Homo sapiens: one gene and its partner. The protein of the gene in region 1 purifies or fractionates together with the protein of each later gene. This does not show direct contact. Each region holds a gene or a part of one and is shown in the gene's direction. Other genes may lie near its edges.

Evidence for each region. Proteins that work in one complex are often made in the same cells at the same time.
Region 2: the proteins of CCDC78 (region 1) and CASQ1 purify together in Homo sapiens (affinity purification with western blotting; one study listed by BioGRID). This does not show direct contact.

Annotation. Positions count from the first base shown.
Region 1 is NC_000016.10:723,235-727,633, reverse strand, and holds the start of CCDC78 (coiled-coil domain-containing protein 78), read left to right. Parts: upstream 1-1,190; 5' UTR 1,191-1,266; coding exon 1,267-1,326; coding exon of another isoform or gene 1,327-1,548; coding exon 1,549-1,668; exon of another isoform or gene 1,669-1,753; coding exon 1,754-1,840; coding exon of another isoform or gene 1,841-2,053; coding exon 2,054-2,221; intron 2,222-2,340; coding exon 2,341-2,397; coding exon of another isoform or gene 2,398-2,488; coding exon 2,489-2,556; coding exon of another isoform or gene 2,557-2,644; coding exon 2,645-2,723; coding exon of another isoform or gene 2,724-2,727; exon of another isoform or gene 2,728-2,827; coding exon 2,828-2,953; exon of another isoform or gene 2,954-3,124; coding exon 3,125-3,312; intron 3,313-3,428; coding exon 3,429-3,528; intron 3,529-3,697; coding exon 3,698-3,777; intron 3,778-4,399. Other genes in the region: HAGHL (hydroxyacylglutathione hydrolase-like protein), read right to left, coding at 20-124. UniProt on the Homo sapiens protein: Component of the deuterosome, a structure that promotes de novo centriole amplification in multiciliated cells that can generate more than 100 centrioles.
Region 2 is NC_000001.11:160,197,075-160,200,574, forward strand, and holds part of CASQ1 (calsequestrin-1 precursor), read left to right. Parts: intron 1-494; coding exon 495-540; intron 541-1,602; coding exon 1,603-1,657; intron 1,658-1,878; coding exon 1,879-1,979; intron 1,980-2,776; coding exon 2,777-2,851; intron 2,852-3,500. UniProt on the Homo sapiens protein: Calsequestrin is a high-capacity, moderate affinity, calcium-binding protein and thus acts as an internal calcium store in muscle. Calcium ions are bound by clusters of acidic residues at the protein surface, often at the interface between subunits.

The DNA of each region.
Region 1 (4,399 bases):
GCCCGCGGCCTGCCCTCACCCTCTTGGGCACAGCCACGTCCACGGCCACCGCCTCGCGCGTGAGCTCCTCGATGACCAGGTACATGTAGTTGTCCTCGAGCACGGGGATGACCTTGACCTTCATGGTCACGGAGCTCGGCCACCGGTGCCTGCTCCAAAACAGGCCCCCCAGCCCACGGTGCCCCTTCAGGGCGGGGCCCGCTCTCCACACCCTAGGAAGGGCTGTGCGAAGCGGGCTCGGTCAACACGCTGGGGGCCAAAAGAGAAGCCCGGCTCCCCAGGAACTCCCCGGCACTCGCGTGGAATTCCACGCACCGGGCTCCAGCAGGAGCGGAACCCGGCCGGTCCCCAACCAGCCCCGGCTCCGCCCCCAGTCCGAGCCCCAGTCCCCAAAGGCCACGCCTTCCTCCCAGGCCCCGCCCCTCGGCCCCCCGCCCTGCCGCCGCAAGACCCCTGACCCGGGACAGCCGCGTTCCCCCGCCGCCCGCCTCACCGGCACGGCTGTGCTGAGGACCCGAAGGACAGACTGACGGAGGCGGGGCCTCGGCCGCCGGTCACGGGGTCCGGACTGAGCGCGGCGCTGGGCTCGGGAGCCGCCAACCGCCCCCCTCCGCGGACGCGCCCCGCCCCCGCCCCCGCCCGGCCCGGATCCTGCGCGCGATGAGACCACAAGGCCCGCCGGCGGTGCGCGTGCCCGGTGGGGCGCCACGCGCACGCTCCGACCCCGCCGCGCCCGGCGCTGGCACCTCCTCCAGGAAGCCCTCCCGACGCCCCGGCTGAGCCAGTCGTTTCCGAGTTCTCCGGCCCCTGATGGGGACGTCTGCGCCCCTCTTCTCAGGCCAGAGGTGCAGAGATATACTTCCCCCGTCCCGGGGCTCAGCCAGCACTGCTAGGTACACAGAAGGTGTCCAGCGAGTGTAGCTCAGGGCATCCTGCGGGCGGGCTGCCGCTCCGTTCCGCGTGCTCGTCCGCTGCGCCCAGGCTGGGCGCTTTCACGCACCTGGTTCCATCTGCACAGGGTATGTGCAGGGGGCGCTGGGCCGCATTCCCCAGATGGGGAAACGGAGGCATGGAGAGAGGAAGAGCTATCCTCCCTCCTCAGCAACCACCGGTCTGGCCGGCCCCTGTGGGCGGTGCCCTGGGAGTCACCTGGGACCAACAGAGGCCTTGGCAACGCACTTAGCAGTGCCAGTGGCAGCAGCAGCCATGGGGAAGCCGGGCGTGGAGGCAGCACCGGGCTCGGAGCTGGCCAGGGTTCCCTAGCCTATGGAGCACGCAGCCACCACAGGCCCCAGGCCTGGACCTCCCTCTCGGCGGGTGGAGAATGTGAGTCCTCTGGGACTTGCCGCTCCTGCCATGGGGTTGAAGTCTGCCCGTTCCCCCAAAGGCCAGGAGGGTGCAGGTTCCTGCACCCTGGGCCTAATTTCAGCCAGGAGAGGGACTTTTACAGCTCAGCCAGGCAGGGAGGCGGGACTGGTGACTGCATGGGAGTGGGGCCACAGCCCAGCCTGGGACCCACCTGGGGAATGGGTGGCGGTACCTCCCCAGGTTGTGCTACGAGCCAAGGACTGGCTGCCAGGAGCTCCTGGGGGCACCGCAGTGTGGGCCACCAGCTTGGAAGCAGAGGTCCCACCAGATCTAGCGCTCAATAAGGAGCAGCAGCTGCAGGTGGGTGTGGGGCCCCAGCGTGCTCGTGAGGAGGGAGGGTGCCAGCAGGGCCCACAGACGCCACCTCTCACCTGGCCACCCACAGATCTCCAAGGAGCTGGTCGACATTCAGATCACAACCCACCACCTACATGAGCAGCATGAGGCTGAAATCTTCCAGCTGAAGAGTGAGGTGAGCAGCCGTGTGAACCAGCCTCAGTGCATGGGGGACGGGGGGTGCAGGCCCAGGACACGTGCCCTGCATGGGCATGCACACGCACATGGCATCTGTGGGTCTCAGCCTGCCTCTGAGTGCTGCGCGCCCCTGAGCGTGCACCGGGTGAATGTTCACCTACCCCAGGTGGCCCGCGGGCAGGTGCACCTGCTCATGCCAGTTGTCCCACAGATCCTTCGGCTGGAGAGCCGGGTACTGGAGCTGGAGCTGCGAGGAGATGGCACCAGCCAGGGCTGTGCAGTCCCAGTGGAGTCTGACCCCAGGCATCCCCGGGCAGCAGCCCAAGAGCTCAGACACAAAGCCCAGGTGCCTGGACACTCTGATGACCACAGATTCCAGGTTACCATGAGCATATGGAGAGCCTGGCTGGGAAAGGCCAGAGGGAAGCCTCAGCAGGGGCCTCAGTGAAACTGGGGCTCACCCACCCCTTAGCTTTCCCTGCCCTCCCTTCCATTCAGGTGCAGCCCAAGAACACCATGAACCCCGAGAATGAGCAGCACAGGCTGGGGAGCGGCGTGAGTGTGCAGCCACCTAGCTCAGGGGAGAGGGCAGCACCAGAGACCCCAAGCCTAGGGTCTCATCCAGCCAGCCCTGTGTGCCCCACAGCTGCAGGGGGAAGTGAAGTGGGCGCTGGAGCATCAGGAGGCCCGGCAGCAGGCACTGGTGACGCGTGTGTGAGTGGCCATCTCACCTGGGGCCCCATCCTGGAGCAGAGAGAACCCCTGATCGTGGGCCTGCTGAGCCTCACCCCCGTGTCTTCAGGGCAACCCTGGGCCGGCAGCTGCAGGGAGCCCGAGAGGAGGCCAGGGCAGCCGGGCAGCGACTGGCCACACAGGCTGTGGTGAGGCTCTGCCCTGACTGCTTGGAGACCTGGAGGGTGGGGGCCCCAGAAGCTCAGCCGGGGTCCACTCTCAGGGCACAGGTGGAGGGCTGCTTCCACCCCAGGTGCTGTGCAGCTGCCAAGGCCAGCTCCGTCAGGCAGAGGCTGAAAATGCCCGGCTGCAGCTGCAGCTCAAGAAACTGAAGGATGAGTACGTCCTACGGCTGCAACACTGCGCCTGGCAGGCAGTGGTGAGCCCTGCAGGAGCACCCTGAGGCCTAGGGAGCCCAAGCCTGGCCTGGGTGTGCTGGATAGCTTCAGGGAGACCCCAGGGCCCCGGCACTGCTCAGCCTGCTGGGGTGGGGGGATGGTTGGAAAAGATGGGGGGTGGGCCCCATGCGGACCCAGCCCGCCGCCTCCAGGAGCACGCAGATGGTGCAGGCCAAGCGCCAGCCACCACGGCCCTCCGGACATTCCTGGAGGCGACTCTGGAGGACATCCGGGCAGCGCACCGCAGCCGTGAGCAGCAGCTGGCCCGGGCTGCCCGCAGCTACCACAAGAGGCTGGTGGATCTGAGCCGCAGGCATGAAGAGCTACTGGTTGCCTACAGGTGGGCCCCGCTGGGATGGGAGGTGTCAGGCATCTGTGGGTCTCTAAGCCTCTGTGCCTCAAAGGCTTGGTGTGCAGCAGGAGTGGCCCCAGACAGACACTAGCCTACCCTGACAGGGCACCTGGGAACCCCCAAGCTATTTTTGACATAGCCAGCTTGGACCTGGAACCATTGCCCGTGCCCCTGGTCACTGACTTCAGCCATCGGGAGGACCAGGTGAGGCTAGAGACCCCCAGAAGCTCCAGGCCCGGGTGCCCCCCACCCACCCACTGCCCCACACTGGCCCCAGGCCTCATCCTGGGCTCAACAGAGACCTCAGCCCCGGGCCTCTGAGGGGCTTGCCTTGTTCAGCCAACTGAAACGTCCCCACCACAAACCTCTGTAGCACGGCGGGCCTGGGGCACTGCTCTCATCCCCAAAAAAGAGACCCGGTGGAGCCTCCCAGGGGGGAACATCAGAGCCACAGTGAGTGCCCTCATGGGTGTGGGGGAGGCCTGTGGGGGATGAGCAGAGAGCACAACGCCTGCACCCTGGGGCCCCCAGTTGCTCCACCAAGCCCCCGCCAGACAGGGTCTGGTCACAGCAATGCACTCAGTGGCACATCCCCACCCTGGGGTCCCTCCGTGGGTCCCGGCGACACTGATAATCACAGGAAAGAGAAGAGGGGCTGCTGCAGGTGGAGCTGGCCTTGAACACGGAGGATCAGGGAGAGCACACCTGAGGGAGGTTTCCGCTGAGACCTGGAGGACGCGAGGGGTGGGAGCAGGGCGCCTGGTGACCGGGCCAGCCCTTGCCTCTGGGCCTCCATGTTCCCAGCTGTACAATGGGCAGGGCTCCCCAAGGACCATTTCCTGGGGTTTAGGGCACACCCGTGTGGGGGTGGCATCCCTGTTGATGCTGGAGTCACTGTCTGGGCTGGCCTTGTGGTTTAGCCCTCCCCCAGCAGCCAGCAGACCCCCTGGGCCCGGGCTGTCCCTATACACGGATGGCTCCAAGGCCTGGGGGGGGCGCCACAGGAGCACGGGGGGGGCCCATGCCTCCCTCACTCACTCCCAGGTGTCCCCTCCCGGCTCTGGGAACCTGACTC
Region 2 (3,500 bases), on another chromosome or scaffold:
CACAGCTGGAAATATCCAATCACTCTGTCCCCCAGGCTAGCGTGCAGTGGTGGATCACTGCAAGCTCCCTTGCAGTATATACAGTACTTACTCTCCCATACTACTGGCTCCCTTCATCAAGGCAGGAACATGCTTGCCTGGTTCAACTGTATGTACCCAGCACCTAGCATAGTGCTTAGAACATATCGGGCACTCAATCATAGTGAGTGAGTGAATGAATGAATAAATTAATGAATATCCTGATGTCCAGTTCTTGCCTTTCTCCCCCAGTCTCTCTTCCAGTCCCTTTGCCCACCCTCCCCTCTCCCACCGCTTTAACCATGCAATGAGCCGGGCCTGGTGCCCAGAGTTGAGGCCTTGCCAGATGGCTTTGTTGTAGGCTACAAGCTGTCTGTGCCCTGGGCCTGACCTAGAGGCAGCCTTTGCTACAGGACCCTCTGGAGGGGGCATCCTTCTAACCCACTGAGTAATGACACTCTGTCTGTCTCTTCTAGATCAACCCTGAGGAAACTGAAGCCGGAGAGTATGTATGAGACCTGGGTGAGTGCCCCTGGCCAGGGTCAAGCCCTCAGGGAAGCATGGGTGCCAGAAGACTCAAGTCCTAGAAAAACCCCACCCTACTGCTCCTCAGGCCCATTTTTAGAAAAAACAGTGCACTGACCAGCTGGGTGTGGTGGCTCATGCCTGTAATCCCAGCACTTTGGGAGGCCAAGGTGGGTGGATCACGAGGTCAGGAGATCGAGACCATCCTGGCTAACACAGTGAAACCCCATCTCTACTGAAAATACAAAAAAAATAGCAGGGTGTGGTGGCGGGCGCCTGTAGTCCCAGCTACTTGGGAGGCTGAGGCAGGAGAATGGCTTGAACCCAGGAGGCGGAGCTTGCAGTGATCCGCCACTGCACACCAGCCTGGGGGACAGAGTGAGACTCCGTCTCAAAAAAAAAGAAAAAAGAAAAAACAGTGCACTAGCAGCAACTGAAAGATTTCTACACTGAAGAATGTGTGAGGAAATGGGAGACAGACATAATTGAAGATGACAAGGGAAGAGCCTCAAGCCTGGGGATAAAGGGATTATCAGAGGAAGTGTGGGGCCTTGGAGCTGAAAGGAGTGTCACTTGGAAAAAGGTCACCATCACAAGAATATATATGGCCAGGCGCAGTGGCTCACGCCTGTAATCCCAGCACTTTGGGAGGCTGAGGCAGGCAGATCATCTGAGGTCAGGAGTTTGAGACCAGCCCGATCAACAAGGTGAAACAATGTTGTACTAAAAATACAAAATTAGCCAGGTGTGGTGGCGCATGGCTGTAATCCCAGCTACTCAGGAGGCTGAGGCAGGAGAATCGCTTGAACCCGGGAGGCGGAGGTTGCAGTGAGCCGAGATCGCGCCATTGCACTCTACCCTGGGGGACAGAGTGAAACTCTGTCTCAAAAACAAAAAAAAACAAACCCCAAAAAACGAAAGAATATATCTGGTCCTGAAGCTGGATTTCCACAAAATTGAGGTTCAATGAACATCTAGGATCTGTTCTGGGCTCCTCAACTTCAGGGAGTATAGTAAGGTCTTCTCCAAAACCCTGTTCTCCTTCTTACCCCCTGACAGGAGGATGATATGGATGGAATCCACATTGTGGCCTTCGCAGAGGAAGCTGATCCTGGTGAGGGAGGAATACCGGGTTGGACTGGAGGGAAGGCAGGGGGAGGTGGGTGTGTTTATTGGAGCATGGGCCTCACTAGGAGGCTTTCCTGGGAGTTTGCAAACAGCCTAGGGCTAGACATGTGAAGCTTGGGGAGCAGGGAGGTAGCTCTGCACTCCTGTTTCACCTGGGTCCCTTTCCTCTCTACACACCTCATACCTTGTACTTGTGTTCCCTCCAAGATGGTTTCGAGTTCTTAGAGACTCTCAAGGCTGTGGCCCAAGATAACACTGAAAACCCAGATCTTAGCATCATCTGGATTGACCCTGATGACTTCCCCCTGGTAAGAGGCACAGCTCAGGCACTGCTATCTTAAGGTGGGGCCTTGGACTGTGACATCTTCTTAGTGAGGGCTTTGTTTCAGAGGTCCCATCCCCACCTCCTAGCTGGGGGGCCCTGGGAGGGTATGCGTGTTGCATGCTTAAGGGCACTGTTGGCATGGAGGGCATCCTGAGCAAGGGGAAACAGGACGGACATCACACACATTCCCAGAGCAGAGGCTGGATGGGTAGCTCAGGTGCTAGGGCTGACTCCTAAAGAAAACCAATGTTGTGAGGCACAATAGTCCTGCACATGGGTATACACACTCAATCATAGAATCATAGCACAGAGATTCCCTGTTTCAGGAGATGATTTTGTTCTCAGCTACATTCCCAACACCTAGCACTCGCTGTTGAATGAGTAACTGAAAGAACAAAGAGAAACGTGAGAAACATTGGCACTTACCAGGTATACTTGCCTTATTTTAGAAATGTAAGATCTGAGGGCCAGAGAGAAGTGACTTGACCTTGAACACAAGGATCTGATCCAGGATCAGAACAGGGTTTCCTATCCAGTTTTCCTCAGAAAAGAGGGGCCAGTGCACCCAGCTGACCCTCCCGATTCTCTCCCTTTAGGATTTCTCCTCTTTTGTTGTTTAGTTCTACCCTTGCCTTGATGCCCTCACAGGTGGACCTGTCCCCATCCACTGCCAGTTCGCACTGTCCCCTCTCCATCCCTGGGCTGACCCTCACACTCATCCTCCTGGATTCATGTGCTCCCTAGTATCTATTAAGTTGCTGTATTTTGATCTCTCTACAGCTGGTCCCATACTGGGAGAAGACGTTTGACATCGACTTGTCAGCCCCACAAATAGGAGTCGTCAATGTTACTGATGTGAGTTTCCTGTCCTCATCCCGGGTTGACCCCCGACTCTACTTCCTAGCATAGCTAGCTCTCCTCCTCTCTGCTAACTAGGAGTTGGGCCCTTCTCACAGGACGCAGACATGCCCAGTCTAGTGGCTGGATGGAGGGGGAGACTTAGGATCTGAATGTGGCCCTGTCCCACATGTTGGAATCAGTGGCTCATCCTTCAAGGCCCAGTTCAAATTCTTTCTCCTCTGTGAAGTCTTTCCAGATCTCCCATTTAAAATCATTCCCTCCCTGGCACTCCCAGGGCTCAATAGCCATTGAGAACATGACATTTAAATGGCTATTTATGTATTATGTGTGTCTCTTCCAGTAGATTTTTGAGCTTGTTCAGGGCAGAAGTCTTCTTATGCACACACAGTAGGTGCTTCAAAACTGCTAAGTTGAACTGAATGAGCCACAGTCTCTGCTTTCATAGAATTCTCAGACTAATTAGAGAGGCAAGTGTTCCATTAACTACAAGGCCAGATCTGATAAACTTTATAATAACGATACAAATAAGACACAGGATCACATTGATTTCTGCTTGACAGAATCAGAGAAAAGTTTAAGAAAAAGTGATATTCAAAATGGAGATTCTACAATGTATACGATTTCAACAAGTGATGATTCAGGG